Homo sapiens: one gene and its partners. The protein of the gene in region 5 interacts with the protein of the main gene of each other region in a pairwise test. Each region holds a gene or a part of one and is shown on either strand. Other genes may lie near its edges.

The links.
Region 1: the proteins of OPRM1 (region 5) and CLEC12B interact in binary tests that used the Homo sapiens proteins (3 or more experiments, as listed by UniProt).
Region 2: the proteins of OPRM1 (region 5) and CNIH1 interact in binary tests that used the Homo sapiens proteins (3 or more experiments, as listed by UniProt).
Region 3: the proteins of OPRM1 (region 5) and ALOX5AP interact in binary tests that used the Homo sapiens proteins (3 or more experiments, as listed by UniProt).
Region 4: the proteins of OPRM1 (region 5) and CLDN22 interact in binary tests that used the Homo sapiens proteins (3 or more experiments, as listed by UniProt).
Region 6: the proteins of OPRM1 (region 5) and CLCN7 interact in binary tests that used the Homo sapiens proteins (3 or more experiments, as listed by UniProt).
Region 7: the proteins of OPRM1 (region 5) and TEX264 interact in binary tests that used the Homo sapiens proteins (3 or more experiments, as listed by UniProt).

Annotation. Positions count from the first base shown.
Region 1 is NC_000012.12:10,013,627-10,016,461, forward strand, and holds part of CLEC12B (C-type lectin domain family 12 member B), read left to right. Parts: intron 1-178; exon of another isoform or gene 179-896; coding exon 897-1,115; intron 1,116-1,259; exon of another isoform or gene 1,260-1,625; coding exon 1,626-1,780; exon of another isoform or gene 1,781-1,985; coding exon 1,986-2,101; coding exon of another isoform or gene 2,102-2,120; exon of another isoform or gene 2,121-2,835. UniProt on the Homo sapiens protein: Inhibitory receptor postulated to negatively regulate immune and non-immune functions. Upon phosphorylation, recruits SH2 domain-containing PTPN6 and PTPN11 phosphatases to its ITIM motif and antagonizes activation signals.
Region 2 is NC_000014.9:54,424,375-54,427,874, reverse strand, and holds part of CNIH1 (protein cornichon homolog 1), read left to right. Parts: intron 1-33; coding exon 34-61; 3' UTR 62-3,500. UniProt on the Homo sapiens protein: Involved in the selective transport and maturation of TGF-alpha family proteins.
Region 3 is NC_000013.11:30,738,543-30,742,042, forward strand, and holds part of ALOX5AP (arachidonate 5-lipoxygenase-activating protein), read left to right. Parts: intron 1-3,500. UniProt on the Homo sapiens protein: Required for leukotriene biosynthesis by ALOX5 (5-lipoxygenase). Anchors ALOX5 to the membrane. Binds arachidonic acid, and could play an essential role in the transfer of arachidonic acid to ALOX5.
Region 4 is NC_000004.12:183,317,600-183,321,726, reverse strand, and holds CLDN22 (claudin-22), read left to right. Parts: upstream 1-1,450; 5' UTR 1,451-1,508; coding exon 1,509-2,171; 3' UTR 2,172-3,627; downstream 3,628-4,127. UniProt on the Homo sapiens protein: Plays a major role in tight junction-specific obliteration of the intercellular space, through calcium-independent cell-adhesion activity.
Region 5 is NC_000006.12:154,094,740-154,098,239, forward strand, and holds part of OPRM1 (mu-type opioid receptor), read left to right. Parts: intron 1-3,500. UniProt on the Homo sapiens protein: Receptor for endogenous opioids such as beta-endorphin and endomorphin. Receptor for natural and synthetic opioids including morphine, heroin, DAMGO, fentanyl, etorphine, buprenorphin and methadone.
Region 6 is NC_000016.10:1,468,529-1,472,028, forward strand, and holds part of CLCN7 (H(+)/Cl(-) exchange transporter 7), read right to left. Parts: intron 3,236-3,500; exon of another isoform or gene 3,096-3,235; intron 1-3,095. UniProt on the Homo sapiens protein: Slowly voltage-gated channel mediating the exchange of chloride ions against protons. Functions as antiporter and contributes to the acidification of the lysosome lumen and may be involved in maintaining lysosomal pH.
Region 7 is NC_000003.12:51,677,752-51,681,251, forward strand, and holds part of TEX264 (testis-expressed protein 264), read left to right. Parts: intron 1-3,500. UniProt on the Homo sapiens protein: Major reticulophagy (also called ER-phagy) receptor that acts independently of other candidate reticulophagy receptors to remodel subdomains of the endoplasmic reticulum into autophagosomes upon nutrient stress, which then fuse with lysosomes for endoplasmic reticulum turnover.

The DNA of each region.
Region 1 (2,835 bases), on a different chromosome or scaffold from region 5:
GGGAACTCACAGTCAAGAAAGTTAATTTGCTGAATGATACTAACATCTCCTCTGCTACATTCATTTCTTTTTAATGATTTAATGGATAATTTTTTAGGATTTAATGGTTAATTAGGATTTGGACATATCTTTGCCAACATAAAAAGAGACTAATGATGTACCTTGCTCTTTTGAAAAGGAATATGATGTTCAAGCAGCAGTAACAGATATTCTGGAGCCAATCAGTATGAGGATTAGCAGCCGATCTTCTACAATAATGTATATTTAAAAATTAAGTGAAAATGCAATAACGTACGTCCATTGGTTCGATATAGAAGGGTGACATTTCTTTTCTAAAATTTAGTGCTTTTGGTGCAGTGGTTCTTAAATTTGTTGTGCTGATGAAGCACCTTAAATGCTTATGAAAAGGGCATATTTCATGGACCCATGACGAGAAATGGTCTGATATGCCATTAAGATCTGCTTTTTCTTTTCTTTTGGTAAACAAGCATCTCAGGTCATCTGCAGAGTTTGAGATATCCATTGTCCCAAAGAATGCTGTTTTCATTAAAACAACAATTACATCATCTATCTCCAAATAAAATAAAACAAAAATAAAACAATTTCATGAAAATGAGTGGCAGAATGACTGGCCCTTCCTTAGATGTGATGTCAGAAATATATCATTATTAAATCATTATTTTAATATAGTGCAATAATAAAAATGTAAATAAAATTATAAAGAACTATAAATAATTTGGAATAGAAAGGCATCTGGTTTGTTTCTTTCATGATACCTCAAATACTAAGAGCTACTAATAAATCTTGAACAATTAAGAAATGTTTCTGTCACGAGAATTATCTACAGTTATAAGAATAGAAGAATATATGAACTTGTCTCCTGTCATGTCTTGGAGTTTTGCAGATATCTAATGACATTAACTCAGATTCAGAGAAATTGAGTCAACTTCAGAAAACCATCCAACAGCAGCAGGATAACTTATCCCAGCAACTGGGCAACTCCAACAACTTGTCCATGGAGGAGGAATTTCTCAAGTCACAGATCTCCAGTGTACTGAAGAGGCAGGAACAAATGGCCATCAAACTGTGCCAAGAGCTAATCATTCATACTTCAGGTAATCAGACTTAGTCCTGCTGACCAGTCAGATGGCATATGTTATCCTGGTCTAAGTTGATCACATGTACCACCTAAGAGTATTGAGAGAGTTATGTCATCCAGTGAACCTTAATGATGTTGCACTAAATTTACACACAGCAAGGAAATATACAAATTCATTTAATATTTTTGAAACCACAGGCAAATTTGGGAAGTATCTTGGAATGATATCAATCTGGATACTTCAACCCCTCATTTTATTAACTATTTCTAGGTGATCATGTTGCTCTGAAAGCTTAAAGGCATAGCTGGTAATTCTGAGGTCAGAAGACTAAGCCATGAAAAGAGAATCCCTGTTGCCCCAACCCATAACCAGGGGTCACTTTTTTTTCAGAGGCTTCTAAAGCAGTATGCTTTCAGGGTGCAGGCTCTCAGTCCCTATTGTTCAATTACATGATTTTGTTTCAAAGCCTTCTCCAGTCACTCTAGAGTCTTCAGTTTATATTATTGGGTATAATTTCCTTTTCAGACCACAGATGTAATCCATGTCCTAAGATGTGGCAATGGTACCAAAATAGTTGCTACTATTTTACAACAAATGAGGAGAAAACCTGGGCTAACAGTAGAAAGGACTGCATAGACAAGAACTCCACCCTAGTGAAGATAGACAGTTTGGAAGAAAAGGTAGGATTGAGTCTCATTCTCTAGTTATAGACATTATCCATACAATGAGAGAGAAATAAATAAAACATCTGATTCACATGATGGAAATTCAGTGCATCTTGAATTAGAATTAATACATGAATTTAATGAATGTCCTCATCTATCTTAACTCTGCAAACTGGAATGTGGCGCTCACGTAAAACTTTTTCTCTGTTTTCTCTCTTAGGATTTTCTTATGTCACAGCCATTACTCATGTTTTCGTTCTTTTGGCTGGGATTATCATGGGACTCCTCTGGCAGAAGTTGGTTCTGGGAAGATGGCTCTGTTCCCTCTCCATCCTTGTACGTCTCTAACTATTGAGGGTAAACACAAGCTTTCCATGGAATCCTGGGAAAATTAATAATGATTGTGAGAATTATAAATACAGACATAAAAAGAGGAGTACAACATACTGAGAAAAGAGCTCCAGTAACAAATATTGAAAGGAGGTATAGTTCATTTCATCTCTGTGACAAATTTATAGCAAGGCACTGAATTTTATCTTTTGGTAGAAATGTGTTTATTTAACACACACACACACCTAATACTACATTCAAAGTATTTTATAAATACTAACCCTTGAAGAAAGCAGTTATATTCCCATTTTATAGGTAGAAATATTATAATAGAGAGATTAAGTAACTTGCCTGAGGTCACTCAGCTCATAAATTGCACTTTAGGGATTGTGCACTCAGTCACTCAGCTATTCTGACTCTCCAGCACCTACAATCCAAAAGGGTGCTGCTGGTCATAAGAACACATATCAACACATTTATTTATACTAAATAACTGTCAACCATTTTCTAACAAAAAGTAAGACTGAATTGACTGATTAGTTCAACAATTAGTGTCATGTTGAGGACTTGCCAATTACAATATACGGCAAGTGTCTTTTATGAATTAAAATGAACTAAACCTTCCACTTCAGGGTTTGGATGAAACTATTTAAAGGACAAATAGAATATATAACACTTGGAAAATTTCAATTTTTTTAACTATTTAAAGTTATGAAAAAATAGACGTCAACAAAAATGTG
Region 2 (3,500 bases), on a different chromosome or scaffold from region 5:
TGTTCAAATTAACATCTTTTTTCTTCTTTTCAGCATGATCTATGTTTTGGTGAGCTCTTAGAACAACACACAGAAGAATTGGTCCAGTTAAGTGCATGCAAAAAGCCACCAAATGAAGGGATTCTATCCAGCAAGATCCTGTCCAAGAGTAGCCTGTGGAATCTGATCAGTTACTTTAAAAAATGACTCCTTATTTTTTAAATGTTTCCACATTTTTGCTTGTGGAAAGACTGTTTTCATATGTTATACTCAGATAAAGATTTTAAATGGTATTACGTATAAATTAATATAAAATGATTACCTCTGGTGTTGACAGGTTTGAACTTGCACTTCTTAAGGAACAGCCATAATCCTCTGAATGATGCATTAATTACTGACTGTCCTAGTACATTGGAAGCTTTTGTTTATAGGAACTTGTAGGGCTCATTTTGGTTTCATTGAAACAGTATCTAATTATAAATTAGCTGTAGATATCAGGTGCTTCTGATGAAGTGAAAATGTATATCTGACTAGTGGGAAACTTCATGGGTTTCCTCATCTGTCATGTCGATGATTATATATGGATACATTTACAAAAATAAAAAGCGGGAATTTTCCCTTCGCTTGAATATTATCCCTGTATATTGCATGAATGAGAGATTTCCCATATTTCCATCAGAGTAATAAATATACTTGCTTTAATTCTTAAGCATAAGTAAACATGATATAAAAATATATGCTGAATTACTTGTGAAGAATGCATTTAAAGCTATTTTAAATGTGTTTTTATTTGTAAGACATTACTTATTAAGAAATTGGTTATTATGCTTACTGTTCTAATCTGGTGGTAAAGGTATTCTTAAGAATTTGCAGGTACTACAGATTTTCAAAACTGAATGAGAGAAAATTGTATAACCATCCTGCTGTTCCTTTAGTGCAATACAATAAAACTCTGAAATTAAGACTCACTTTCAGTGCATTGTTTGAGATTAAAAATAGTATTTCTTAAACTTGCTTAATCCATGATAAAGACATGTTGCTGTCATTTTTAAAAAGTGACGTACTACATTATGGGTTTTCTGAAAAATACCATGCCTAGATCTAAAAAGGAAAATTTTTAAATGCCGAGCACATTAACCTCTTTTGTCATTTGACAAGATTCATAAACGTGGATGGCATAGCATCATCATTTCTCTTACCAATTAAGAAAAATTATGGTGGCACTTAAAATATTTTACTTTGATTTTTCCTTTTTGGAACAGTCAGTTTTAAGGTAAAATGGCTTGTAAATTTGAGTTTTTGCTGCTGCTTGTAAGGCAGGTAAATTATGGCTTGCATGTTTTCATAAGCATAAATAAATCTTGTGCTTTATTTGGGATGAGGAAGTTAAGGCAGTTGAAAATAAAATAAGTGGTTTGGAAGTTTCTTGAGAAGAGGATCAAAAGAAAGAGAACCAATATATAGAAATTTCACATGATCAAGGAAGTTTATGGATGCGTTTGTGGAAATCTTACTCTATGAACTTGTTGGATTAGATGCTGTTTTATTCTCTACTAAGTGAAAAGTGCTTTATTTCAGTGCTTTCCCATGGTTGGGAGAGAGTAGCTGTTAACTATTCTGGGTAATGGGGGTGAGTATGTTGAGGAAGAGATTTAGAACCAGAAGAGTGAAGAGACTCAAACTGTTCCATAACAAGGAAAGCTTTAAAGACCTTGTATTTCACAGTCTGGAGAACTAGAGGGATCTGACTCTTGGTCAGTTCATGTAACAAATTATTTATTGAGTACTTGCTGGGCTCTCAAGATTCATGCTTTGAGCACAGGCAGTCATTCAGTTTCCAGTCCACCTGATTACATCAGCATGCACTTAGTTTTCTTTCTTGTTCACAAGGACTTTTGATCATGCAAGACCTGGCCAAGTCTTCTATAATCCAGATGGGTTTCCTGGGGCTGTTACTTGAGTATTCCTGTCAAAATATTTTCGTGAACCCTGCCTCTCTTAGCAAACACTACTTCATAAGTGTTAACAAACATCCTTTTAATAATCTATTCCAGAATATTCTCCAGGAGTAAGTTTACTGGTTGGGATTTGTGGAAGCCATTTTCTCATGTTTCCCAAATAAGATATGTAGTCTTCAGCTGATTCCTCAAAGATGATTGACAGGGAGTTTCACCCATCTTTGTGGTAGTTTGTGAGTTCCTAGGCATGTAAGTGATTAAAAGATTGAGTACCTGCTCTCCTAATATCTACCCACTTTTACCATGTCAGTGTTTTATGAATTAGATCACTTACCAAGAGAAAGCAGAAACGAAATACTTGAATCTGACAATATCCGACTGGCTCTTTTCATTGCTCTGGATTTATTTTCCACATCAATCTCTTTGGGGTGGCCCTAGCCTATTATTCCTGTGGGTTCAGCTGAGGCATGGTTAGCCTGGGTTTATAATTCAGTTTACGTTAAACATTCCCTGTGCAGCAACAGCTGTTCATTTAGGTACTCTTTTTTTTTTTCTCCTTATTACAGTTACTTTTGGTATTATGTGCTTTATCTTTAAAAGCTTTCTAGCTCTAGGAAATTGTTTTCCCTGTTTGTGTCTATTTTATTGCATCTTGTGTAACACTGTGGTTATATCTATACCAACAACTTTTTGTTGCTATGGATACCACAGATTGTCCTGAATTAAAACCCTAACATAATAAATGTCTGTTTAGCCGTTACTTTACTGAGTAATAATACTATATTGTGGCAGTATGGCCCTTTAATACTAAGGAGGTATGGTGTAGAAATTATTTGAACACTCATATCCAAATGTTATTAATGATGTTTGACAGTTTTCTCAATGCTTAATGATATTCCTCACTCCTCATTCCAGGGTAGAGGAGGGTTTGGTCCCAGGCTATGGACAAACTGCTAATTTGTTTGAAGTTTGAATTATTTTTCATGGGAAAGGGAAGTGATAGGAAATGACCAAGACCATCCACTTTTGACTTGAGTATGGATCGAGTATAAGTAATAGTTTCCTAGCCTCACTGATTGTACCATGAACTGACAGACCTACCAGTCAAATTCATGTACCCAGATAATGGTCTCTCACATGGCAACAAAGTACACAGCAGTTTGCAGTATGTGTCTCTTTTAAAGCCAGTTCAGTGTTTTCACCTTGACGACCACTCCTGCAAACAGTTCTCATAGAGCTCTTCTCTGCTCCCCAAATCAATATATTTTGAAGCTATGTCAAATATTTACATAGAAAGGAAATAAAGTTGTATGTGCTTTGAAACCAGCAAAATCCTTTGTACAACACCTCTCTTCTCCTTCTATGTTTATGAATAGAGTTCGTGGAATATTGCCATAGTGCAAATAATGACTTCCGTGTATCACTTATACCCTGTAGGGGTGAGCTTTCACCTTAGGTGTGGTTATATCCTAGCAGTGTATCAAGCCCACTCAAATAATGGTCTATATTTAAAAGTATGTGTCTAGTTTACTTATTTATGTCATTTAACATCCATAAATGTAC
Region 3 (3,500 bases), on a different chromosome or scaffold from region 5:
TTTTAATTACACAGACGCATTTCTTATGAGTAGCAGGCAGAGAGCCTCCAACTTCTTCTGCCTAGGTACCAGCAGCTTAGACATGATGCAAACCTGGGAAGCACATACTGTATTTGGAGAAAGTGATTGGGAAGAAATGTGAGCTGAGGGGAGGGGCTCAGTGCCCCTGAGCTACACTTAGTGATGGCAGAGGAAGGATGTCCTCCCGCAGGAGGCTGTTCCACATCTGCTCTGGTTGTAGGGGGAGCTGGCAGGCATTAGCAGCGGCCTCTTTCCCCCAAGAGAGGCAGCCTCCTCCAAGTTTTGGCGACATTATGGCCCTGCAATCATAAGGGTTTGTGAGCATAGTGCTAAGGAGGGAAATGGAGCTGCTGTTACTAGTTCCACCCCAACACACACACACACACTCACAAGAAACCTCACAAGCACCGTATTGGAAGACTTTGCCATCCAACCTGGGATTTGACAGGCTCTAGAAGCAGAATCATAGACTCATGAAGTTCCCCCAAAGCAGGAATCTTCCTTACAGTAACCCCCAACCACCCCCCTCCACCGCCTCCACCGGCTGCTTCTTCCTGAACACTGCAGTGTTTGGAAAACTCACAAACTTCCAAGCTTGCCTTTCCTATTGTTGCATGGATTGAAAGCTTGCGTTGTGTGAAGAATGGCGCTTCCTGCTGTGCTTAGTTTTATCTCATATAATCTTTGCACCATTTAATCCTTGCACTCACCCACTCATGCAACTGCCTTTGCAGAGACTGGAGGGGCCGCTGTAGGCTGACCTTTCCTTCACTGTACCTATTTTGTTCCCTGCTTTATTCCCCTGCACCCAGGACACTGCCTGGCACAAAGACAGGTCTTTATAAGTGTATGCAAGTGAATAAAGATATATATATTATTATTGTTATTTTTGAGACAGTTTCACTCTGTCACCCAGGCTGGAGTGCAGTAGCGCAATCTCAGCTGACTGCAACCTCTGCCTCCCAGGCTCAAGTGATTCTCATGTCTCAGCCTCCTGAGTAGCTAGGACTACAAGCATGTGCCACCACGCCCAGCTAATTTTTGTATTTTTAGTAAGGACAGGGTTTCACCATGTTGGCCAGGTTGGCCTCCAACTCCTGACCTCAAGTCATCCTCCTGCCTCGACCTCCCAAAGTGCTGGGATTACAGGCATGAAACCAGCCTAGAAATACATACTATTATTTATTCTTGTTTTACAGATAAGCAAAGTGAGTCATGGAGAATTTGGTTGAAAGTCCCAAGGTCAGGAGTCGTGAAGCTGGGATTAAAACCTAATCATCTGACTTTAGAGAGTAGACACTTGCTCCATGCATATTGCCTCCAATTCATTCATTCAAGCACTCCCTGCTCAAGAAGTTCTTTCTTATGTTGAGCTGAAATCTGCAGCCCTATGCGTTTTACCCAGCAGTCCTGGTGCTGTTCCCTAAAATCACTTAGACTGTGCCTGCTCTTTCTGTGTTTACAGTGTCAGCTGTAATATCCCCCTCTTCGGCCTAACGTTTCTGAAGTCCCTTGCCACTGGGTCTCCTCTCCTCTTCCTGTGTTCTTTCTAAGAACACCTATGCAGATAGGTGTCTTCTGTACAGGGAAGCTGTTCCTGAGATCCGGGCATCGACTCTGTTAGAATAATCTACGTATGAGTTATTTTTTTGAGAACTATGTGTCATTGCTGACTCATATTAACTCTGTGGTTAACTAAAATCTCAAGATCTCTTTATGTTTGTTGAGAAACTTATTTAACTTCTCTGGCCCTCCGTTTCCTTCACTGAGCAGTGGAGTGATTGATAACCTCCACCTGTGGTTGCTGAAGGTCTTGCACAAGATGATATAGTTAAAGTAGCTAGCAGTGCCCACGTACGGCGGATGCCTCACAACGGTTTGCAGCCATCTCTCTATCTGTGTCTTTGTCTCTCTCTCACACTGGTTTTGGCTTACTGTTAGCAGCTAGCCGAGATAAGTGTGTTTATGGTCTTTGCATGTATTGTTTCTGTAGCATACTGGAGGATTACAAGAGGTTGGGGAGTGAGGGGGCGGTGAGGAGTAGACAAAGGCAGCCAACTCTTCCAAGTTTAGCTTAGAAGGAAGGAGCGGTAAACCCTAGTTGAATGTTGGACTGAAGCAGGTTTGTTTTTGTTTTGTTTAAAGGATAGGGAAGATCTGTGCGTGTTTCCAGGATAAAGAAAAGGAGAGAATATGATATTAAAGATTCTGGAAGTGGGAGAAGGAGCAATGAAATACAGACTTGAAGTCAGTGGCATGGACAGGGTCAAGATCACAGTTAGAGGATGCAGCCTTAGAGAAAAGGAAGGGGCTCGGTTCTCTGAGCAAGGAGGGAAAGAAGAGAGGCAGATGCAGAGAAGTACGGCACATCGTGCTGCTGGTTGTAGAAATAACCTCTGACTTTTAATAAAGTCATCCCTCGGTATCCCTGGGGGATTAGTTCTATGACCTCCCTCGGATGCCAAAATTCGTGGATGCTCAAGTCCCTGATATAAAATGGCATAGTATTTGCATTTAACCTACACACATCCTCCATATCCTTTTTTTTTTTTTTTTTTTTTTTTTTTTTTTTTTTGTGAGATGGAGTCTTGCTCTGTCGCCCTGGCTGGAGTACAGTGGCTCGATCTTGGCTCACTGCAAGCTCCGCCTCCCGGGTTCATGCCATTCTCCTGCCTCAGCCTACAGGTGCCTGCCACCACGCCCAGCTAATTTTTTTTTTGTATTTTTTAGTAGAGACAGGGTTTCACCATGTTAGCCAGGATGGTCTCGACACATCCTCCATATACTTTAAGTAACCTCTAGATAATCTCTAGATTACTTGTTTTGTCTTTTTTTTTTTTTTTTCTTTTTGAGATGGAGTTTCACTCTTGTCACCCAGGCTGGAGTGCAATGGTGCAATCTCAGTTCACTGCAACCTCCGCCTCCTGGGTTCAAGCAATTCTCCTGTCTCAGCCTCCTGTGTAGCTAGGATTACAGGCCCCTCCCCACCCCCACCCCCCAACAACTGGCTAATTTTTGTATTTTTAGTAGAGATGGGGTGTCACCACGTTGGCCTGGCTGGTCTTGAACTCCTGACCTCAGGTGATCTACCCGCTTCAGCCTCCCAAAGTGATGGGATTATAGGCATGAGCCACTGTGTGTGGCCTAGATTACTTATAATACCTGATAGAATGTAAATGCTATGTAAACAGTTGTTATACTGTATTGTTAAAAGACAGTAACAAGAAAAAAAATCTGTACATGTTCAGTCCAGACAAATGGTTTTCTGTTTTTTTTTTTTTTTTTTAATATTTTTGGTCAGTGGTTGGTTGACTCCAGGAATGCAGAACCCGCAGATATAGAAGGTTGATTATGCGTTCAGAGGCAGGGAATACCATCTTGGGTTCCAGAAAGAAAATGATCAGCATTTTCTGTCATACTCTGGTAAAAACAGATCTTTTGAATGGACAGGTGTATTAAACCCTGTGGAGCTGGCTGGG
Region 4 (4,127 bases), on a different chromosome or scaffold from region 5:
GTGATGACAAAGACCTCTTTGTTTTGTAGCTAAACCTGTGATGCTCACGTTTTCTCATTCACTATTTTTCTACAGTAGGTAGACCCACTTCCCTCTAAAATCTGAATAATGAAGGAAAAATCTTTTATCTAAAAGAAAATGATTATGGTAAGCATTATACAGGTAGAAGTGAAACAAGCTTCATTGATCTGGTTATTGAAATTAATGTGGTGGCTGTCCAATACAGTCAGTTTCAAGCTTTAATGTGTAAATTTCATATTAGAAAGCTTTTTTCTGTTTTTCTTTTTTTTGTTGTTGCTGTTGGTAGTCAGAAATGATCTTTAGTTTCTGTTTCCTAAAGAAAAAAACTAACAATCTGAAAATTTTAAGTGTTCTACTTTAGCAAAACCACATGCTAAGCCAACCTCAAAGTGTTATTTCCACAACAATGACCTTTTTCTTCTTTGAACAGAAGTGGTTTGTTTTTAGGATATTACCAGGCACTCAGTGCGGCAAGATTTTATGAGGCTGAAGAGTTTTCAGTACCTTGTGATCCTCTCAGATTTAAAATGGTGGCCAATCTCTTCTCTCATCCTTTCCCTCAAAACCTTCGTATTAAAAAAAGAAAAACAATTCCAAAGACATTTTTCTTGATATCCTGATATTGTCAGGTCATTTGAATAAAACCTTTCCTTTGTTCAATGAAAAATCGCTAACATGGGGATATCTACTTTAGTGGTGAATAAACAGAAATGCTGACTCCAACCTGCAGAGTCCAAATGCTGAACTTTCCTCGGCACAGAAAGCATATATAAGAAAAAAAAGTGTTTATGCACACAAGCGTGAATTTGACAGAAAGGCATGCAGATAAATAAACTAGATCTGTAGTTCAGTATTGCTTCATATGCCATGTGGTATATGTAGCCTGAGGAATTTCTGAAACGCAGGAGTGAGTTAAGGTGTAGAGAGATTTCTGATAAGATTGATTTATTTGGTTAAGAAATACTTTTCTTAAACCTATTTTTAAAAAATAACACTCAGTATTACCATAACATGCACATTTGAAATGTGAGAACTATAAGAGATGAAAATCTGACAGGTGCAGTTAGTGAAACACAAAGCAGGAGGAGTTGAACCAAAACCATCAGTTAAACATTTTGCATTTAGACTTAATTCTTTGTTAGAAAGGTTGGGAATAACATGAAAGCCATTTTAACCTTGACAATGAAAGGAGATTATCACTTAATTATATTTCAGTGACAAACTGCTTTCTGTCAAATCCAGCCCACAGGACACAAACACAATCTTGGCCACACCTTGGCATTACTGGTTGGCGGCATTATTTCCCTATCCTTTTGTGAAACCCATTCAACATGGAATCAAACAATAGCAACTCTGGCAAGAATCCTCCTATATACACAATGAAGAAATATTTCTGAGTTTCATAAGTTATAACACAAGTGTCACACTTCTTTTCACAGCAACCGAAGGGCAGGAGTTAGTTTGGCTAAAGCTCTCAGGACATTATAATGGCTTTAGTATTTAGAACTGTAGCTCAACTAGCTGGAGTTTCATTATCTTTGCTGGGATGGGTTTTATCCTGTCTTACAAACTACCTGCCACACTGGAAGAACCTCAACCTGGACTTAAATGAAATGGAAAACTGGACCATGGGACTCTGGCAAACCTGTGTCATCCAAGAGGAAGTGGGGATGCAATGCAAGGACTTTGACTCCTTCCTGGCTTTGCCTGCTGAACTCAGGGTCTCCAGGATCTTAATGTTTCTGTCAAATGGGCTGGGATTTCTGGGCCTGCTGGTCTCTGGGTTTGGCCTGGACTGTTTGAGAATTGGAGAGAGTCAGAGAGATCTCAAGAGGCGACTGCTGATCCTGGGAGGAATTCTGTCCTGGGCCTCGGGAGTCACAGCCCTGGTTCCCGTCTCTTGGGTTGCCCACAAGACGGTTCAGGAGTTCTGGGATGAGAACGTCCCAGACTTTGTCCCCAGGTGGGAGTTTGGGGAGGCCCTGTTTCTGGGCTGGTTTGCTGGACTTTCTCTTCTGCTAGGAGGGTGTCTGCTCCACTGTGCAGCCTGCTCCAGCCACGCTCCCCTAGCTTCGGGCCACTACGCAGTGGCACAAACACAAGATCATCATCAAGAACTGGAGACGAGAAACACCAACCTGAAACACTAAGCCAGAAAGGACAAGCGTCTGCTGTTCAGGAGACGCTTGCTCAACACTGGATTTGGTAGGATGTCCCGCTCTAGTCATCTCACTGTGCTTTTGATTTTTGAAAATGCATCTTTTCCTGTGGCTATTAAACTATAGTTTCTTTCCAAGACTGGTAAACCATTTTTATCTTCTAGTCTGAGACCAAAATCAATCAAGACTGAATAGTAATGACACCCATTACTGTGGATGAGTTTTCTCAATTTTAAAATAGCGATTGCACAGAAGTGGTAAATAAAACATTAATCTCTATGTATCTTTGAAGGTATTATTCATATGGAGCGGAATCATTTGGCAAATCATTTACTTATTTCAGGTGTTTAAGATAACCTAGTATAATAAGCCTGAGGTCTTGTTGCATATTTATTTAAAATGCATGACGTCTTATTATATAAAATAATTACTAGCTCTTTAGAAGCTTCAGAGGTGAAAGGTGTAGACACATCATCTCCTTCTGAATCAGAGACCTCAGTGTCTCTATGGAACCTTTTTCAAAAGGCAGCCACATTCAGTCACGCCTTCTATACTGTCAGAGGCAGGAGGGCGATCTTGGGTTTTGGATGATTCAAGTAGACTCTGCCACACAAACGTGCTTCTGCATCCTGTGTTCTGTATTTCACGGGCAGCGTTTCTGGCTTCCCAGGCACTGAGCAGCCTGTGGGGGGCACGGCAGGGCAGGACTGGGGTGTGTGGGTAGATAACCTCCTGGGACGGCTGCCTCTCTGTGGAGCACACTGCCAGCCCAGGCGCAGCGACCACAGAGCACATATTCTGGAGCCCTTCATTTTATTTGCTCAATGAAAATACTTCGTCCTTTTTTATCAGCAATACATATAGTTCCAACAAGAACTATTCATCACAAACTGCCAGCCTGGGGATTTCTTCATGAAATATTTTGTATTTGCTTGGTACATGGTTCAAGGAAACTCTTGTGTTTGTGCCAATCAGGGAAATAAACTGAACAATAAACGACACTGAAATAGAGTATTAGGCAATATGTAGCTTTGTTTTTGCTTTTTTTTTTAAAAAAAACCACTGAATTTTTTTCCACCCACAAACACATGGAAAGTGCAGAAACCAGTTAATCTATGTGATGTATTTGCATACGTTTACAAACAAGACAAATTAAAACAGAAACATGTTCAGAATTTAACCTGATTAAATATTAAGTTCAGTCCTGAGCTTTTGATATTTAAGACAATATAGATAAAGCAATAGCAAAAAATTTTAATTTATTTGATTTGCATGCTACAGAGATTTAGCTAAACTTTGTTCATTTGGCTAGCAATATTCTTTTTGTACCTGTAACACTTAAGATTCTGATATACAAAATTGTAATAATATACTGATAATTCAAACTTGAGAACTAAATATTACATTCTTTTTACCCTGTGCGAATAAATTCTACCTTTTAAAAATAGTATTTATAATATTAAAATTCATATTTGTCCATATGGTTTTGTGATCAAGTTATTAAAATGTTTTGTCACTGTGAATCATTTGGGTTAGTACAAATATGACAAGATTATTAAAAGCTGCCTATAAATACATAACACTATTGCTGACTTTTAAAGTGTAGAAAAAGGATTATATTAAAATAAGTTCATCTCTCATGTTAGAAATGAGGAAATTTTGTGAAATACAACAACCAAAAGCATCTTGGTCACAACTGCTAACTACCAGCCTGAGACAGATTTTATTCTTTAATACTTGTCTGAAACTTTTTGTATTACAAAAAGTCAACAGCTAATCTGATGAAAGACTTATAAAGCTGTAAATATTCCAATATAGTCTCTTCTGTGTCAAATATTTAAAATGGCCAGAATCAAACTATATATTAAACAGAACATAAATAAGACTGTAAATAAATAAATGAAGAAAATAAAATCGTACGGAACAACTACACATAATTCTATAGAC
Region 5 (3,500 bases):
CTCTGTGGTTTTATAGGTCAAATAAAGTCATCCTGCCAACCTAGATTCAAAGGGTGAGAAATTAGACTCCATCTCTTGCTGATAGGATCTGCAGTCACATTGCAAAAGGATAGGTATATAGGGAGCGAATAATTATGACCACTTCTGCTAACAATCCGTAGTAAGGACATGCTGCATGAGACAGGGAAGCCATTACTTCCTGAGGGCAGGAGCCGTGTCTGTCTTGCTCTCCCAAGCCAGAGTCTAGCACATTAAAAAGAAAGTACTTCTGGCCAGGCACAGTAGCTCATGCCTGTAATCCCAGCACTTTGGGAGGCCAAGGCTAGTGGATCACCTGGGGTCAGGAGTTCGAGACCAGCCTGGTCAACATGGTGAAACCCCGTCTCTACTAAAAATACAAAATTAGCCAGGTGTGGTGGCACATACCTGTAATTCCAGCTATTTGGGAGGCTGAGACAGGAGAATCGCTTGAACCTGGGAGGCAGAGGTTGCAGTGAGCCCAGGTCGTGCCATTGCACTCCAGCCTGGGCAACAAGAACGAAACTCCATCTCAAAAGAAAGAAAGAAAAGAAAGAAAGTACTTCCAAAACATCCAAAGCATTGGACAGATTCATGTCTGTTGAATAAATGATGAGAGGGCTGAGGATATTTCAGGAGATGTGGCAGGCATGACCCCTTCATCATGCAACTGACGAACAACCTAAATGACTATGTACCCTAACCCTCTTACCGTCAGTAATGGGAAAATATTCAAAATAGGCCTTCTTCCTTTTCTCCTCCTCAGCCTTTGCTACTCTGATCCAATGTTATTTATACTTTTCAAAAAATCAGTTACATTCATGGTTGTTTTCTAATTTTATTTCTAACGCGTACTTTTGATAAGGAGACCAAGAGATTGATTCAGTGCCCTAAAGAGGTCTTTCCCTAGCTGAGTATGAAAAAACAAAAAAGATGGTCTCGTGTTTTTTTTGTGCATGCCTGGGCTCAGCCTACTGCTCCAGCTGTAGCCTCTGTGCCTGATTTATGTTCAGCTTGCTGTCTTTATGACTTTTAGATCTTTATTAGGTAGACTAAGGCATAGGCATTCATTTTCCATCTGTTCTCAGTGCAATTTAATTTCTCCACACACGCCCTACACTGCTGTTGTCCTATTGAACTCCACTTTGCTTTCAAACCCTTCCCTTGTTTATTTCGATCACTTCAGGTTCAACTCAAACCTGAACTGTTGGCCACTGCTAACCTGCCTTGCCCACTTGGTTTCCACCCGCATCATATTATCTAATGCATTTTCTTTTTGTTGTTATTGTTGTTGTTTGTTTGTTTTTTGATTTTTAGTTTGAAATGGAATTACTCTGTCGCCCAGGCTGGAGTGCAGTGGTGCGATCTCAGCTCACTGCAACCTCTTCCTCCTGGTTCAAACGATTCTCCTGCCTCAGCCTCCCCAGTAGCTGGGATTACAGGCATGCGCCACCACACCCAGCTAATTTTTGTATTATTTTTAGTGGAGATGGGGTTTCACCTTGTTGGTCAGGCTGGCCTCAAACTCTTGACCCCAAGTGATCCGCCCACCTCAGCCTCCCAAAGTGCTGAGATTCCAGACGTGAGCCCCTGTGTCTGGCCTCTAACGCATTTTATATCTTGACACGTAGGTGATTATTGAAAACGTTTAGCATTATATGGGGAAAAAAGCAACACTGTTACATCAGTTGAATTATCACTGAAACGGTAGAGTTTGGTGCAAAAGTAATTGCGGGTTTTGCCATTACTTTCAATGGCAAAAACCGCAATTATTTTTGCACCAGGCTAGTACTAACAACCACTATAATAATAATGCTGCCTTACATTTATATGGCAATGTACAGATTCAAAAGTGCTTTTATGGGCATTATCACATCTGCTTCCTATAACAACTCTGATGGGTAAATGTAAGAAAATGCTCAGGGAAGTTAAATCATTATATAAGATCAAACAGCCAGGAAGAGGTAGAATCCAGACAAGCACCCAGGGCTTCGAATATTACTCCACAGCTTTTCTCTGCTTTCCTACACAATGCTACTTTGCACTCAATTATTATCACATGGTCTCAGCCAGATTCTCAACATTTACTATGAGCTCCAGAAAATGTAAGTTCTTAAGAACTGCTCTAATAAATTATAGTTTGTTATGTGAGGGTCCAAGAATCTGCCTTTTAAATAAAACAATAAACTGAAATCTCTTATTTAAACTGTACCTTCATCTCCAAAGTAGCACATTTACTGTTTTGTCTAACCTGTCTAGCCATTTCAGTCAAGCTGATTGACATGAATGTTTTCACCAAATGAGTTATGTGTTTTGTGAAATAATGTAATTATCCTTGGAAAAAGCCTTAATATTCTGACATATCTACCCGTGGGTCTTACAGGAAAAAGCAATATAATAGTGATAAAGTGAACGTCGTGGCATGTCCTGCTAATTCCTTTCCATTAATATGGCAAGTCCAGTCCTAAACCCTCTAATTACTATTATTAAAGCACTTTCTTGACATTTTAATCAAAATAGCGGGTCAAGAAGTTAGGAGATGCTCTGTATTTGGTTTAACTGTGAACTATATTATCCCCAGCTAAACTAAAAGCAGAAGCCTACTTTTAAAATAAAATACATCACTCTCAAAAGTTGATCTCAGTTTTTTTTACAAGACATCTGTGGAGAGTTAATTTGGGAAAGTAATTGTTTCAATTCAATGGGAAAAAAAACTCAAATGAGAATAGCTCACAAAATTACAGCAGTGGACAACATTAATGCTTATTTTGTGAATGAAATCAAAATGGCTATTCTTTCAGTTCTACAGTTTAAAAAGAAAATGGTTCCGTGTGTGTGTGTGTGTGTGTGTGCGTGTGATATAGGCATGTCTCTTTTTGCATGTATGGAATTAGAGTAAATGTAGGTTTAAAATTAATATTTCATGCATAGCAGAAGAAATTAGTATGTGTTTCTATAAATTATTGTGATATGTGAGAGAAAATGTTGTTTAGTTAAAAATGTGTTTATCCCTAGAAAAATTTGGCTTTTAGACTATTCATAATAACATATATTGACCATTTTGTGTCTGGGATGGGATATCTTATTTAATCATATTAGATATGGATTGTAACCTCTACTCTATAGTTGAGGAAACTAATGTTTAAGGAAGTAACTTGCCCAAGGTCATAGTTAAAATGTAGTGGCTGAGGGTTGGGTGCAGTGGCTCACGCCTGTTATCCTAGTACTTTGGGAGGCCAAGGCAGGAGGATTGTTTGAGGCCAGGTGTTCGAGACCAACCTGGCCAACATAGCAAGACCTTGTCTCTACTAAATTTATAAAATTTTAAAAATTAGAAAAAAAATTTTAATTAGTGGCTAACTATTGACTCCAGTTAAATTCCATCTTATAACCCAGGCTTTTAATCAATGTGCCCTGATATATTCCAGTCTATTTTTCACTCTTCTCAGCATGGTCTCAGACCTGAGAAATTTAGGGAAATT
Region 6 (3,500 bases), on a different chromosome or scaffold from region 5:
AAACACTAGATGCTGTTCCTCAAACTCCTGCCACACACGGCAACCTACACGGTCCCAAGCGCCGGACACTAACTAAAAACAGACAGGCTCAGGAACACGTGAGCCAACACTCCCGAGAGGCGAGACTCGGGCCGGACGGGAGGCGAGGTCATCAGGGTTGGGAGTGGGTGGGACTAGAAAGATGGGTCTGAAAATAGCCTGCACCCCCTTCCTGGTGCTTACGCGGATCTACACGCATTGCACCGACACTCTCTTGGTTTTGGGGCTGCGCTGTTACGGAAAGGTAAACATTGGGGGGAAACTCGGTGAAGGGTACACAAGCCCCCTGTGCTACCTTTGCTGCTTCCTGTGAATCCAGAGTGATTTAAAAGTCAAAAAAGGGCTGGGCACAGTGGCTCACGCCTGTAATCCCAGCGCTTTCGGAGGCCAAGGCGGGCAGATCACCCGAGGTCAGGAGTTCGAGACCAGCCTGGCCAACATGAAGCAACCCCGTCTCTACTTAAAAAAAACGAAAAAAAAAAAAAAAAATTAGCCGGGCATGGTGGTGCACACCTGTAATCCCAGCTACTCGGGAGGCTAAGGCAGGAGAACTGCTTGAACCCGGGAGGTGGAGGTTGCAGTGAGCCGAGATCCTGCCACTGTATTCCAGCCTGGGCAACAGAGCAAGACCCTGTCTCAAATAAATAAATAAAATAAAACAAAATAAAAGTCAAAATAATGTATAGAGGGGAACTACATCAAACTTTAAAACTTCTACACATCAAAGAAAACAACAGAGCAAAAGGTAACCTATGAAACGAGAAAATATTTGCAAATGTGATAAGGAATTAATATCTGATAAGGGATTAATATTCAGAATACATAAAAAAACTCAGGGTCAGGGGAGGTGGCTCACGTCTGTCATCCCAGCACTTTGGGAGGCTGAGGCGGGCTGATCACTTGAGGTCAGGAGTTCAAGACCAGCCTGACCAATGTGGCGAAACCCCAACTCTCCTAAAAATACAAAAATTAGCCGGGCATGGTGGTGGGCGCCTGTAATCCCAGCTACTCAGGAGGCTGAGGCAGGAGAATCACTTGAACCCAATAGGCAGAGGTCGTGGTAAGCTGAGATCACACCACTGCCCTTCAGCCTGGGCGACAGAGGGAGACTCCGTCAAAAACAAAAACAAAAATAAACAAAAAACCAAAAACCAAAAACAAACATAAAAAAGCAGCGTCTGAAAGTCCCACTTGCACGCCATGTTCACAGCAGCACCGTTCACAATGACCAAAATGCGGAAGCACCTGCTGTGCCGATGGATGAGTGAGTCAAGGAAATGCAGCCTCTCCCCGCAATGGAATAATTCAGCCATAAAGAGGAATGACCACCGACCCGTGCTGCAGCACGACGGGCCGGAGGACACTGTGCCCCGTGAAATAAGCCAGTCAGAAAAAGACAGCTCCCGCAGGTCCACTCGCAAGAGGGCCCTGGAGCCGTCAGGTCCCCTGAGGCAGATGGCAACGAGGGGGCTGGGCAGCAGGAGGAAGGGAGAGCGTTGAATGGGTGCAGTTTCAGTTTGGCAAGGAATGGGTTGTGTAACACTAAGAGCGTGCTCAACCCTACTGACTGCACTCACGGATGATTAAACGGTCATTAAACAAAATGTTTTTTAGAAACAAGGTCTTGCTATGTTGCCCAGGCTGGTCTCTAAGTCCTGGGCTCAAATAATCCTTCCGCCTTGGCCTCTCAAGTAGCTGGTATGAGAGGCGTGCACCACCATGCCTGGCTCAAAATGGTAAATTTATGGTATGTGTTCTTTACCACAGTTTTTTTTAAAACTTAAAGCAGGATTAAAGACCATTTGCTGTTCTGCTCGGCCTGTGTTGCGTCCTAACATTCAGCAGGCCTCTGCCAGGACCAGGCTAGACGCTAGGCACAGAGGATACAGCAGCTGCCCCGCGGGGGGATGGGGGTTACAGTCAAAGGAAACAAGGTGACACACAAAGGCCACAGAGACCAAGGAGAGGCCTTTGCTGTCCATGCAGTGTCCCCATGGCGTTAAGGCAGAGACCTAAAGCAAGACAGACACTGAACAGCAATGCTGGAGGGCAGGGAAGGGCAGGGGACAGCAGGGGAACCCTCCCAGGCTGGCAGAGGACTTCCTGGAGGCCAGAAAAGAACCAAGGGGCACTTCCTCAAGTACAGCAGAGCTCAAGGGGCCACTGGCGACGACCCCAGACCCTCCCCCGCAGCCTTGCTGCGCCCACAGTTCTTTCTCAGGCTGCGGTCTGTGGCTCCGGGTGCCCAGGCAGGACACAGTCCCACACTAACCCAGACCCCTGCCCTGCCAAGGTCTTATGTGGAGTGTCCCAACATGAGTTCCCAGGGATGTCCTGCAAATACCCACCTCCCCTCACTGCCCCCTGAGACCCAAGTGTTTCTGGCTCCAGCCGCTTTCCCTCTCAGTTCTCAAGGAGTTCTGCTTCCTGCCGCCCACACACGGCCAGGGCTGGCTGACCTCACCCTCGCCCTGTCCCAACACCACCAGATGAGCAGTGACTGGCTTGGTCAATTCACCACTACACCACACAAAGCAAGACCGGCCTGAGAACAGGAACAGCAACCCACAGGCAGCTCTGAAGGGCCTGGGCTTTCAGCGGGCACCCAGCCTCCAACAAGCCACTCCACAGTCTGCCCTGCCCAGGGCAGCCACCTCATAGTGTTTGGCCAGCTGTGCCCACGCTGAGGTGGCAACGACACCACCAGCCAACCTGAAAATCCTGCAACAAACCCTAAAGAGCCTGGAGGCAGCTAGGACCAGTTCTCATGTTCACTGGAACAGTCCCGTCAGCAGGGGATGGCCTGGGTTGATATTTTAGCTCAAAACAGCTCTGGAGGCCTTGAACCCAAGGGCAGCTTACAGTACCCCGTCTGTGGCCACACTGGGGTGCGCCTGAGCCTAACTGTGAGCTGTGCCCACCAGTCAGAGCAGACCCTCCCCCAGAAAAGCAGCACCAAGAAATCCAGTAGCTACTCAGGAAGTTGGACAGGAAAGTCACAACGAACACGAATCCCTCTTGTGTTGCTGGTTTTAACACGACCGGGCACGACTCACGTTTCTTCAGAGCGTAGTTTGTGACAGGCACCGTGCTCAGCGCTATGCATGCGTTAACTTTTTCGCAGACGGGAAAACTGGGCAACAGGGAGGCTACAGGCCTTGCAGGAGGCCATCGGCGAGTCCGATGCTCAGAGCACAAACGCCTGGCCTAAGAGGTGGTGTCTTGGCCTCTAGACTCCGCCTCTCCAGTCTGTCTGCAGGGGAAGGCTGGGGCCCTTCAGGAATGGGGTCCTAGCTTCCCATGGGCTCCCCTAGAGATGAGCCAAATTCAAAGCCTGTTCATGTGCGCAGCAGGGCTGACCTCCAGGCTCCACAGCGCATCCCAAACACACACTCCCTCTGTCCTTTCCCCCCGTCCGCCTGCCTGAAGATCTTGTGCTCTTCAAGCCCAAGCCTTGTGAC
Region 7 (3,500 bases), on a different chromosome or scaffold from region 5:
GACCTGTTCATAGTAGCTGCTGCTGGAGCTGTTAGCCTTGTGCCCTGGAGTCCTGTATGGGAAGAGGCTGCAGGTCTGGGTGAGTGGTTCTTGTGAGGCAGGAGGAAGGATTCCATTCTCCATCCCTGAAACCCTTGGCATGGTTGGGAATGGGAAGGTGGGGAAGAAGTCTTTTGGGAAGTGGACAGACCCTGGCAGGGGCTCATGGGTGTACTCACCCACCTCAGAGCCCAGCATTCATGGAGTGTGGGCCATTCCTCTTCAAGGTATGCAAGGGATGGGGTATGAGTTCAGAGATAAGGATCACATGTAGGCGGATGTCAGTCACAGATCTCCCTTACACACACTGGTCCATACTGCCCTTGCATGACTGGGGAAGGGTCCTGACTAGAAAAACTGCTCTGCCTTTAGCCCTGCTTCTGCGGTGGGTGCTGGGGGCTTGGAAAGTGACTTCAGGCTCCCTTTTGGGGCCTGGTCCCTCTGGGAGCCTTCAGTGTTGGAGGGGAAGGAAGGAGCTGAGAGGACCCTGAGTGCCTCGCTTGATCCTGGCCAGCTCTGGCCTGTGGACAGGCCCTAGTGGCTGGGCTGCTATCACTGTGCCTGTGGGCCCATCCTGTCTGCCAGGCTGGCTCTCTACCTCCTGCCCCACCCTGTGCCACCATCACCTCTGCTGCTATGTTTGGGGCTTAAGCAACCTGCCTGCTTGCTTATATGGGGAGCCTGGCTGGGGCAAGATGGGTGTGGCAGCTAGTTCAATTTATGTGGCCCAAGTGGGCCTATATTTGCTGCTTACATCTACTACCTAGGAGGTGGTGTTTGCTCCAGGCATGGAGTGGGTTGGGGAACTGGTGGTACTTGCTTCTGCCTTTAGTAAACAAGACTGCCATTGAAGCCCCCTTTCCCTTAGTCCAATGAGAACCAAGGCCCAGGGCCACTAGGTCTGCAGGGGCCTGTGGTCATTTGGCTGGCATGACCACAGCCTCACAGAGGCTGGTGAGAGTTCTGATGTAGGCCTGTGTCACACTCCCTCCTCCCTCAGTGTGTGTGGAGAGAAGGCTCCCTGCCCTCCCTGGAGGCACTTAGTTTGGGTGGAGCCTGGGAAGGGGTGAGGGAGTAGGATTTCCCAGGACTGACCTCCTCAACAAAGGCAATGGGAATGTGGGCTGGGATGTTTCCTGAGGGCTCAGGCCGCCCCCTATCCTGGTTACTCCATGGTTATTTTCTGCCAGGTGGAGTCCAGGCATTTGCTGTGCAGCAGGTTAACTATGTGGGACAGGTCTGGAAGCACGAGCTCCTCTCTGCCCACTAGAACTGTCCTTGAGGTGAGGTGAGACGAGGTGTGAGAGGAAGGGGCTTCGGATTTGCCCTTCTGGGTTTGAATCAAGGCTCCACTGCTAACCAATGTGTGACTTTAGGTGAGTCACTTGGCCTGTCTGAGTATGTCTCCTCATCTGTCACATGAGGATAAAAGAATCCCTACCTCAGGGTTTTTGTTTTGTGGGGGCTAATTGATAATGATATGGCCCAATACCCAGTTCTTTAAATAGGTGGGTGTCACACTTGACATCCAGTCCTGCCTGAGGACCTCATGCCACTGGGACTTTGTACTTTTAGGGACCCTGCCTGCCTCTCTGGTTTAGTCCCAGCCTCCTGCAGGTTGTCTGGGCCATGTGAGGCGGCACAGTGCAGGGAAAAGCCATTGTGCAGCCCGCTTTCACTAGGGCCAATTTCCGGGACTCCTGGATGCCCCTGGGTTGTGTGGCGCAGCTCTGAAGCTGGTCTGCTTGAGTTTGAATCCTGACTTCAGCACTCCCTTGCTGTGTGACCTTGGCTGAATGGCTTGGTTGTCTGGGCCTTGGGAACAGGGTTGAAAACAGTACCAACCACAGAAGGCTGTTTGGATTTAATGAGCTTATGCTTGGAAGGCAGAGTCTGGGGAAAGTGGTGAGTGCCTGGTCAGATATCAGCTGTTTTTAGGATTCTGTTTGAAGGTGTAGGGTTATAGAGGAAGGTTCCTGAAAGGTTTCTAAGTAAACTCACCTTTGAGGGCTGGTATCTTGTTGACTCCTTTCTTTCCTCCCGAGCCTGAAGAATGAGGCTTGTCCTCTGGCCTAGCTGTCTGCATCATCTCGTGTCCTGACTGGTGCCTGTCTCCGTGTGCCTTTGGGCATAAGCTTCCCAGGGAAGTTGGGGGTTGGCGTGTTGACCTGTAGCACCTAGGAGGGCAAACGAGGTCCCGTATCAACCACCTAGTCATGGGCCAGTGCAGCTCGTCTATTCCCTTGGGAGTACAAGTGCAAATGAAGGGCCCTGCCTCTACTTTCCCCCTTAACTTGGGTAGCTCTGGGTCAGTGGGCTGGCATGGGAAGAGTAAGGGCAGCCCTCTGTGCCTGGGTTTGAGAGATGGTGCTGCTGTCCCTGTCAGGTTGTGTAGGTTGTGGGCCTGGGGTTGGCAGTTTGTATTAACCCTGAACCCAATGACTACATTTGGTCTGGGCCGCTGACACCATTTCTCATTCCTGCATCCTGGAAGATTATCAGTCTTGTCCAGTTCCCAGACTCAGCGAGGTCTTGGCTTGGCAGGGGCCCCGAGATGGCTGTCTTCGCTATAGCCTCACACAATAGGGTCGGCAGGGCACTGTGACACCACTCAGGAAGGGGCAGTGGGGCCAGCCTTGGGACTAGCTCGTACCTGGAAGCCTCAGGTTCTAAGCAGACTGCCCTCTCCTCCCAGTAATGGGACTCAGGAGGCTTTTCAGCCCAAAGGAGATGCTCTGGGGCCTGGCATGCCTCTGTTGTTTTCCTGGTACTCTTGCTTTGAGGACACATCCTGGATGGGCTTGTCTTTACCCCGAGTGGTGGTGGGTCTGGCCACTGCCCTGTTTCCCAGATGTGGTTCCTTGTAGGTACTAGTTCTGGTCCAATTCTTGTTCTGGGCAGAGGTACCCAGAGAAATAGCTGATCTGGGGAGGAAGAGGAGCAGGCAGGTAGGGCTGGGAGGCCCAGGCCTATGTCCTAGGGTTCGGCCCAAATACAGATACTCATTGAGCCAAGGTGGATGGGGTCTCTTGCCCATCAGGACATCCCAACCTTCTGGGCACTTGACAGCCTTAGTAGGCCTTTTCCCTGGAGGCGGGTCTGGGCTTTACTGGGAGGCCAGGAAAGCTTTCCTCTGCCACTGGATCAGCCTTGCCACTCCCTAGGTTATTTTAGGGCCTGTCCCATTTCCTCCTTGCTGGTGCCTTGTTCAGCTGCTTCCCAGCTTCAACTTTGCATGGGGCCACTTAGTGGGTGGTAGGCTTGCTGAGAGACCTTCTAGGCTCCTCCTTAGGCCAGGGCAGGGGAGGAGGTAGGAAGTGTTCTTACTTGTGGAATTAGGGAGTTGCTTAGCCAGGAAAGGAGCTGCTGTGCCCCACACACCTCCTGGATCCTGGGAGCCCTGTCTTCTTAGCTCCCTTCTTCCACTTTGACAGGAGCTCTGCCTTTTCTCCAGGTGGAGG